Linked DNA regions of Homo sapiens: region 1 is reported to be linked to region 2. Evidence: microRNA targets listed by miRTarBase, many of them from high-throughput screens and not tested one by one. Region 2 holds a microRNA gene; the other region holds the end of a gene's coding sequence.
Evidence for each region. The annotated mature microRNA hsa-miR-326 reads CCUCUGGGCCCUUCCUCCAG and lies in region 2 at 2,112-2,131, opposite strand. An mRNA with a match to its seed (bases 2 to 7 or 8) in the 3' UTR can be bound and repressed. Matches are read on the target gene's strand: a 7mer-m8 pairs with bases 2 to 8, a 7mer-A1 pairs with bases 2 to 7 and ends in A, and an 8mer does both.

Region 1 (4,385 bases), not on the chromosome of region 2:
CTCACCCTGGGGCTCCCCACCCGCCCCAGGTGATGCTGCTGCACCCACCCCAGAGTCATGGGGGGCCCCCCCAAGGCGCGGTGCCCCAGAGTGGGGTGCCTGCACTCTCAGCTTCCACACCCTCACCCTACCCCTACATCGGACACCCCCAAGGTGAGCAGCCTGGCCAGGCGCCTGGATTTCCAGGAGGAGCCGATGACAGGATTCGTGAGTTCTCATTAGCTGGGGGAATTTGGCATGGAAGAGCTGAGGGGCTGCAGGTGGGGCAGGATGCACGGGTTCTGGGTGGGGAGTGAGGGGTCTTGGAGGCAGGGCTGTCCCACAGGGCGCCCGCCGACCTGCACCTGTCTGTGAAGTATGTAGGGTGGGCAGAAGCCACAGTCGCCGCCGCCAGGGGCTTGCTCCTGGCTCTGTCCTTTGCTTCCCTCCGTCCTCGCTCAGTTGTGATCCAGCAGCCCCCCTCCCCACTGCCTCCCCAGCTCTCAGTGACCCCGACTGTCTCCTGACTTAGCCGAGGTAAGGTCAGTGCAGCAGACAGGGCCAGACTGGGGTGTGGGGGGCTGAGCTGGGCACATGAGTGAGGGCTCTGGCTTACTGGGAAACAGCGATTGACCTGTGCTTCTGACAGCCCCCGAGACACCTTGAGGAGGCCGCTCCTTCCCAGACACACCCCCACGCCCCCACTGGACGGCATTGGAGGAAGGGACAGCTGCTTGGGTTCTAATGCTCCTGCTCTCTTCTCTTTCCCCTCCAACCAGTTCAATCTCATCCCTCCCAGCAGCTCCCCTTCCACCCCCCGGGGAACTGAAGATTGTCCTGGCCGCGACCTGAGACCTCCATGAGTGGAGGGAAGAGTGATCTATGTCTCTTCCCCCAGCAGCTCGGACCACTCCCAGCCCCCCATCCCCCCGTTCCCCAGGGGAGCTGGGGAATTCCTGCCAAGCACCTTGAATGGGAGGGGCCTCACAGAGGGCAGGGCCAGGGTCCAGCAGGGGTGGGGGGTTCCTGCTCTGCCCCTGCCCGTCCCCACCCAGTCTTGCCCTCCCATCCTCTCATCTATTCCCCCGCTGGAGACGGAAGATCTTTTATTTTCTATTATTTATAACTTCAGACTTGGGCCCCCTGTTCTTTCTTTCCCATTAACTTGAGTGACCTGTGTGAGAGACAGACAGATGCCCCACGAGGATGGCTGGACAAGGACTTTTACTTTTTATTACATAAAAATATTAAAAAATAAATAAAAAAAATAAAATTTTAAACTAACTTAACCTGCCTGGAGTTTCCTCCTTGGAGACTAGAGTGGGGTGACAGCTGTCAGTCTTTTGTGGCATTGATAGGTGCTGCATTGTGACCTGTTCCTTCACCTCCATGTAAAAATCGTGTCCAGTGGCCAGCCATGGTGGCTCACGCCTGTAATCCCAGCACTTTGGGAGGCTGAGGTGGGCAGATCACCAGGTCAAGAGATGGAGACCATCCTGGCCAACTTGGTGAAACCCCATCTGTACTAAAAATACAAAAATTAGCCAGATGTGGTGGGACATGCCTGTAATTCCAGCTACTTGGGAGGCTGAGGCAGGAGAATCACTTGAACTCGGGTGAAACCCTGTCTCTACTAAAAATACAAAAATTAGCCTGGCGTGGTGGGACATGCCTGTAATCCCAGCTACCTGGGAGGCTGAGGCAGGAGAATCACTTAAACCCAGGAAGCGGAGGTTGCAGTGAGCTGAGATCACTCCATTGCACACCAATGGTGGCCAGTTTTTGAAATCTAGGATGATGGGGAGCCAGATCGGGATCCTGTGCCATGCATTTGAAGGTGGGTTCCAGACTTCATGTGAAGTTGTGTAGTTGATGACTGAGGTTCTGGATGACCGGATGGCTAAAAGCACGTGAGATGGGAGTCCGCTTCCCAGGATGGGACAGCAGTGGCACAGTTCCCAAGGATGCTGTCCCTGACTGGCTCTGGAACTGCTACATAGATAGCTCACCCAGCTGTCTAGTGACTATTTTCTCATCTTGAACTTGGCTTCATCTCAAGGTGTGATTCAAAGTTTCATTTCTAATATGAGTATCTCATGAATTACATACACCTCTTTATGTTGAAGGGTGAATGTTTATGGTCATTGGAATTAAAATCCTGATGGATGTGCAGCTGACTGTGGATGAGAGCTGTAAAGGTGAAGCTGTTAGTGGGAGAAGAGGGGAGAGGATTGGTTGGGAACTGGGCTTACTGGGGAGCAAGAGCAAAATTAGGCATTATGGGTGGGACAAGAAGATTGAAGCATGGGATGTGGAAATGACAGCAGGCTCCAGAGGAGGTAGTTTTTCAAGGAGGTTGAGAATTCTCTCGGAGACTTGACCTTGGTTTCCTTGCCTAAAATGGAGGTGATTTCACCTTTCCAGGATTTTAAGGAAGTGGCTGGTGCTCAGTGGTAGACGGGTGTTTCAGCTCTCACCAAAGCCAGAGAAAGCTGGCTGAGACCAGGACAGGAAGAGTGAAGGCTACAGTATTGGGGAAGAATCCCAGCATATGCAGATTTGGAACTTGGTAATAGGTGTACATGGTGGGGTGGAGAGAAGGGGTTATTAAAGAGGTTAAAAAAAAAAAAAAAAAAAAGGACTTTATGTGGTAGCCACTTGGATGCTAAAAATGGGCGGGGTTGGAGTCCCAAGAGCACTCAGCAGGTAGATGTGGGGTGGTGCAGGAGCTGCAAGGCTTCAGCTGGGCTCAGGATATTTGAAGTGTAGATGGAGAGACAGGTATCTACTATGAAATATGGCAAGTATTACTGGGTAATCTTTCAATTTTTTTTTTTTTTTTAAGAGACAGAGTCCCATTATGTTGGCCAGGCTGGTCTTGAACTCCTGGGCTCAAGCAGTTCTGCCTTGGCCTCCCAAAGTGCTGGGGATTACAGGTGTGAGCCACCACACCCAGCTGAGTAGTCATTTTGATGCTTTCTGGAAGGACTGCAGATTGTACAGCAGTCCGCCCGCATCTGGGGGGGATGTGATCTGAGATCCCCAGTGGATGCCCATAGTACCAAACCTTATGTATACTATGTTTTTTCCTATAGCTATGATGAGGTTTAGTTTCTAAATTAGGCACAATACTCTTGTGCTTCGGGGCCATCACTGAGTAAATCAGGGCTACTTGAACACAATCATTGGAGTGCTGTAACGGTCAATCTGATAACCAGCACGGCTACTAAAGTGACTAACAGGCAAAGGGATGGTTCACGTCCTGACAGGATGGATGGAGCAGGATGGCAAAAGATTTCATCATACTACTCAGAATGGTGCTCAACTTAAAATCTGAACTGTTAAATAGAAAATTCTAGGCCAGGTGCGGTGGCTCACACCTGTAATCCTAGCACTTTGGGAGGCTGAGGTGGGTGGATCATGAGGTCAAGAGATCGACACCATCCTGGCCAACATGGTGAAACCCTGCCTACTAAAAATACAAAAATTAGCTGGGCATAGTGGCGCATCCCTGTCGGCCCAGCTACTTGGGAGGCTGAGACAGGAGAATGGCTTGAGCCCGGGAGGTGGAGGTTGCAGTGAGCAGAGATCGTGCCACTGCACTCTGGCCTGGCGACAGAGCGAGACTCTGTCTCAGGAAAAAAAAAAAAAAAAAAAGAAAATTCCAGCTGGGTGCGGTGGTTCACGCCTGTAATCCCATACTTTGGGAGGCCGAGGAAGGTGGATTATTTGAGGTCGGGAGTTCGAGATCAGGTTGGCCAACATGGTGAGATGCCATCTCTACTAAAAATACAAGTTAGCCAGGTGTGGTGGTGGGTGCCTGTAATCCCAGCTACTTGAAGGCTGAGGCAGGAGAATCACTTGAACCCGGGATGCAGAGGTTGCAGTGGGCCGAGATCGTGCCACGGTACTCCAGCCTGGGTGACAGACACTGTCTCAAAAAAAAAAAAAAAAAAATTCCAGAAATAATCAGACCAGTGTTGACAGTGGATAACTGAAACCAGGGATAAGGGCAGAGACTACTGTATGTTTACCATCTTTGAGCAGAAATCTCAAAGTTGGAAGGGAACTTAGCCTTCAGCCAGCCAGAAATTCCTCTTGGCAGCCCGTCAGCCTTGCCTTGAGCACTGAGGAGAAGACAAATCTGCCCTGTCATTGGACTTCTTTTTGCAAAGTTCTTCCCTCTTCCTCTTCTCTCACCCACTTCCCTTAGTTTGCCTCTGTTCTGGAGTCAAAAATCAGGTTTTGCATTTTCTCAAAACAGCTCTTAAGTTGGGCCCAAGAGCCCTCCCTTCTGGGAGCTCATCTTAGCCATCCTGGGTGTGTATTCATTTGTCAGGATGCATTTGTGATAGGGGTGCCTGTTAACCTCTGCCGAGCCTTGCTTTGCTTGGTGTCGGCATCCT
Region 2 (4,385 bases):
TATTTGATTGATGTCTCATGCCTCCTAAAATATATAAAACCAAGTTGTACCCCGACCACCTTGGGCACATGTTCTCAAGACCTCCTGAGGGCTGTGTCACAGGCCACGGTCACTCATATTTGGCTCAGAATAAATATCTTCAAATATTTTACAGAGTTTGACTCAACAACGCTCACCAAATTGATTACAGCAGGTGCTAAGTGCTCTGAAGAAAAAAACAAAGCCACTTGTCAAGAAGGGCAGAGCCACAGTTGTGGGTGGCCATTCAAGCTCTGCAGGGCAGAAACCATACAGTAAGTGCTCTGGCAGGAGCACACAGTAGGTGTGTTGTAAGCAGGTTTCCAGCTAAAACTTAACACTGTTTTCTTTGGGCCCAGTGCAGCTTCTTGCCAACCAGTTCAGGGTGTATTGAAGGCATTGTGCCAGGGCTGGGGAATAGAATGATTGGTGAACAAAAATCAGTCCTTGCCACCACGGAGCCCACACCCAACTGGGGGCACAGACAAACGGGGAAGTGTAAAAGAGAAGTTGATGAGGGTCATGGGGCAGGAGAGGGACAATCAGCATGTATTGAGCACCTACTGTGTACCAGGCACTGTGTTAAGCCATGCATTATCTCATTTAAGCCTTACCACAACCCTATGGGGGTGAGGAGAGGATTTTATTACCCCCATTTTAAAGATGACAAAACCAAGGTTCAGAAAGATTATGTAACCGTCTCTAGGTCACAGGCATAACAAGCAGTAGGGGTGGGATCTGAAACCTAGCCGGACATCATGTTTGTTCTTCGAAGCCCTCCCCACAGCCACCTGTCTTAGGGAAGCACAGAAGGCAAGACATTGCTGCCAACAAACTCCGCTTCCCTGACTCTGCAGAGGGATGCACCGCACCCTGCCAGCCTGGCTTCCTTTCTGAGCAGGAAAGGTCAGCTCGGCCTGCCCTGGCAGCTCCCCTCAGGCACCAGACCAGCCAGACTCCTGACCCAGTCCCAGGAGCAGGAAAGGCCTGTCCAGACTTCTACTCTGCCCCACTCCCACAGAAGGTCCCATCCCAGGCCGGGCGCGGTGGCTCACGCTTGTAATCCCAGCACTTTGGGAGGCCCAGGTGGGCAGACCACAAGGTCAGAAGTTCAAGACCAGCCTGACCAACATGGTGAAACCTCATCTATACTAAAAATACAAAAATTAGCTGGGCGTGGTGGCATGTGCCTATTATCCCAGCTACTCAAGGCAGGAGAGTTGCTTGAACCCGGGCTGAGATAGCACCACTGCACTCCAGCCTGGGTGACAGGGCAAGACTCCGTCTCAAACAAAAAAAAAAAAAAAAAAAAGGCCCCATCCCGGTTACAACAGCCCCTTCCCAGGCAAGCCGTGCTCCACAGTTTATAACCACTTTCACCCTCTTGATTCGTCTGACCACCTCACCCCAGCAGCTTGTATCCCAGAGCCTAATACCAGGCCTGGCACACAGCAGGTTAATTTGACAGACAGCAGGACAGACTATCCCAATGAAAGGCATGGGCTCCCCTGAGCCATCTCCATCCAGCTTTCATCAGCATTTCCTGAGCTCCCAGGACAAGCCTGGGGCTAGACCAGGCAGTTTCACCTATGGTTCATTATTTTAACCTTTCCAGGAAGGTCTTATCTCCATTTTGCAGAAGAGGAAGATTGAAGTCAGAGAAGCCTTTCCAGTCTCTAATTTACATGGCAAGTGAAGCTGCAGGTTCAGCCTGCCCCAGAACTGGCTCCCCTGGATGCCTTTCAGGTGTTGCTTCTGTAGGGAGGGCTCTAACCTATGACAGATCTCTGCTGTGGGATGAGAGCCCCCTGAGGACATGCAGCAGATGTGGCACCAACATCCTAGCCCAAACGAAAACTTGCCACAGCAGGGCAGAGCTGGGCTTGGGCGCCTAAAGCTTACAGAGCTTGGAAGGTTTTTTTTTTGTTTGTTTGTTTGTTTTAAAAAAAAAAGAGTACAAAAATAATTTCCTTTTGCAAATTTCACAAAACCCCTGAGCACATGGACACATTGCTAGGCCTTGGAAAGGGCCCTGGAGCGTGAAGGGCTGGAAGCTGAAGCTGCATCAGCCTCATGGTGAATCCGCCTCGGGGCTGGAGGAAGGGCCCAGAGGCGATCTGAGCACCACCCGCCTTCACAAAGGCCCTGCCTCCAGCCCAACAGACAGATGAGGCTCCGGAAGACATTCCTTCTTCTTGATGGGAGTCCCGCTGCTACTTAACCCTCCCTGCAGTAGGTCCAAGTCTGTCTGTCTTTCTCTTGCCATGGTTTCAGAAGAAGCAGATCTTGGCCGGACGTGGTAGCTCACACCTGTAATCCCAGCACTTTGGGAGGCTGAGACGGGAGGATTGCTCGAGCCCAGGAGTTCAAGACCAGCCTGGGCAATGTAGCAAAACCACATCTGTACAAAAAATTTAAAAATTAGCCTGGGATGGTGGCGAACACCTGTGGTCCCAGCTACTCAGGAGGCTGAGGAGGAAAGATTGTGTGAGCCCAGGAAGTCAAGGCTATAGTGAGCTATGATCACACTACTGCACTCCAGGCTGGGCAACAGAGCCAGGCCCTGTCCCTGTCTCAAAAAAAAAAGAAGCAGAGCTCAGCTGAGTCTCGGACCTGCCTGCGGAGGTCTGCTGCTCACAAGGGCAGCACTGCCAGATTTCTTTGTGATCCTGGGGCACAACCCCAAGAGGAGCCTTCCATGCCTGGGCTGGAATCCTGGGCCTGGAATCCTGGGCTGGCAAGGGCTGCCCTATTAAGAACCCCATCCTCAAACATTTGTAGGGTATGATACAGTTTACCAAATGTTCCCACATCCCACATCCACATCCCGTTTGGCCCACACGACAGTCCTGGAGGTGAGCAGGGCAAGCTTTATTGTCCCCCTTTTATAGACGGGGACAAAACATGAGACTTGCTGTGCACCTATTGCATACTAAAGATGCCAAGGGGCTTTCCACACGTGACAACTCACAGATACCCTGTGAGAAACCAAGGCTCACTCAGTGTCTGGGGCTGGGCCTGAGAATGAGCCTGCAGCCCTGCTCTCCCATCTCGCAGCCCGTGCCTCTGCCCTGTCTCATCTCAGTCTGGCATGGACAGCTCAGAAGGCAGTGGGCAGGCACGCTGAGACTCAGTAGGTTGAGGAAGAAGAGGCCTCCAGCTACCAAGGCGGAAGAGTAGCTGAGGGCTCAATATATTTAATAGAAATCAAAAAAGTGAGAATCAACCGTGCCCTCTCTGGATGTGTCTGAGGAAGAGCACATGGCCCTTGGGAGCCTGAAACCTGTTTGAAAGCAGTCACCTTACAGACTCAGGGCCTGATGTCCTCCCCACACCCTGCCAAGCTGCAGATGGCCCCACCCCTACCTCCCACTGTCCACATGCTAGGCCTTCCAGACCCTTCTGCTGACTCCTCTCAGCGCCCAAGGCAGCCACCCAGTGCTTGCCCTGGCCTGTTCAAGTCCTACTCCTGTCCTTCACTAATGCTTGCTTAATTCGTGGATATACCTACTCTACGAATCTTTATGAGAAGATACTGTAGGGTGACCCACAGTCCTGATTTGCCCAGGAGTGAGCTGAGGGGTTTCCTGAGATGCGAGACTGAGACTGTCCCAGGAAAATTGGGATGGCTGACGACCCTCATGTACTGCATGCCTGGTCCCTGGGCTGGGTGCCAAGGACACATTTATCTACCAAACATAGTCACTGCCCTCAAGAAACTTCCAGTCGGAGAGTGGCTGCCACTCAATGAGAAACCACTGTCAAAGGCACCTGTTCAGCCCCTCACACACATGATCCATCACCACCCTATGAGGGGAATATTATCACCTCCGTGGTATGCATAAGAAAACTAGGGCTCAGAAAGGTGGCACAATGTGCCCAGAGTCAGAGTTACAAGTGACCTGCTAAGATTTGAACTTGATCCAATGAAACAGAAAAAGGGCAGTTTCCAGCATGAACATTATGGAGATAGAAAAAGATAGACATGTTTTATTTAATTCATTTTGTAGCTCCAGTGTCTGGCATGTTCTAGGTATTCAGGAAATGCGTGAAGGGAGAGAGGGAGATCTAAGCCTTATTTAATTATCTCCAGGCTAGGAGATTCCATCCCTCAATTCAAAAGCCATACATTTCCCTTTTCAAAGTCAGTTTCAGACCAGGCACAGTGGCTCACACCTATAATCCCAACACTATGGGAGGCTGAGGCAGAAGGATCTCTTGAGCCCAGGAGTTTGAGACCAGCCTGAGCAACACAGTGAGACCCCATCTCCACAAAAAATCTTCGAGGCTGCAGTGAGCTATGATCGTGCCACTGCACTCCAGTCTGGATGACACAGCAAGATCCTATCTCAAAGGAAAAACAGAAA

Region 1: miRTarBase lists ATXN2L as a target of hsa-miR-326. The part of its 3' UTR that is shown has no 7-base or 8-base seed match.

The regions. Positions count from the first base shown.
Region 1 is chr16:28,835,970-28,840,354 of GRCh38, forward strand. ATXN2L (ataxin 2 like) reads left to right here. Exons shown (of 22, transcript NM_007245.4): 22 at 1-1,263. The coding sequence ends at 296. Among named protein-coding and RNA genes, the nearest start is that of MIR4721, 5.8 kb to the right of the region's middle.
Region 2 is chr11:75,332,997-75,337,381 of GRCh38, forward strand. It overlaps MIR326 (microRNA 326), which reads right to left and starts at 2,190; the gene lies at 2,096-2,190. All of the region lies in intron 1 of ARRB1 (arrestin beta 1), which reads right to left. RefSeq lists enhancers at 92-625, 1,694-2,228, 2,229-2,762.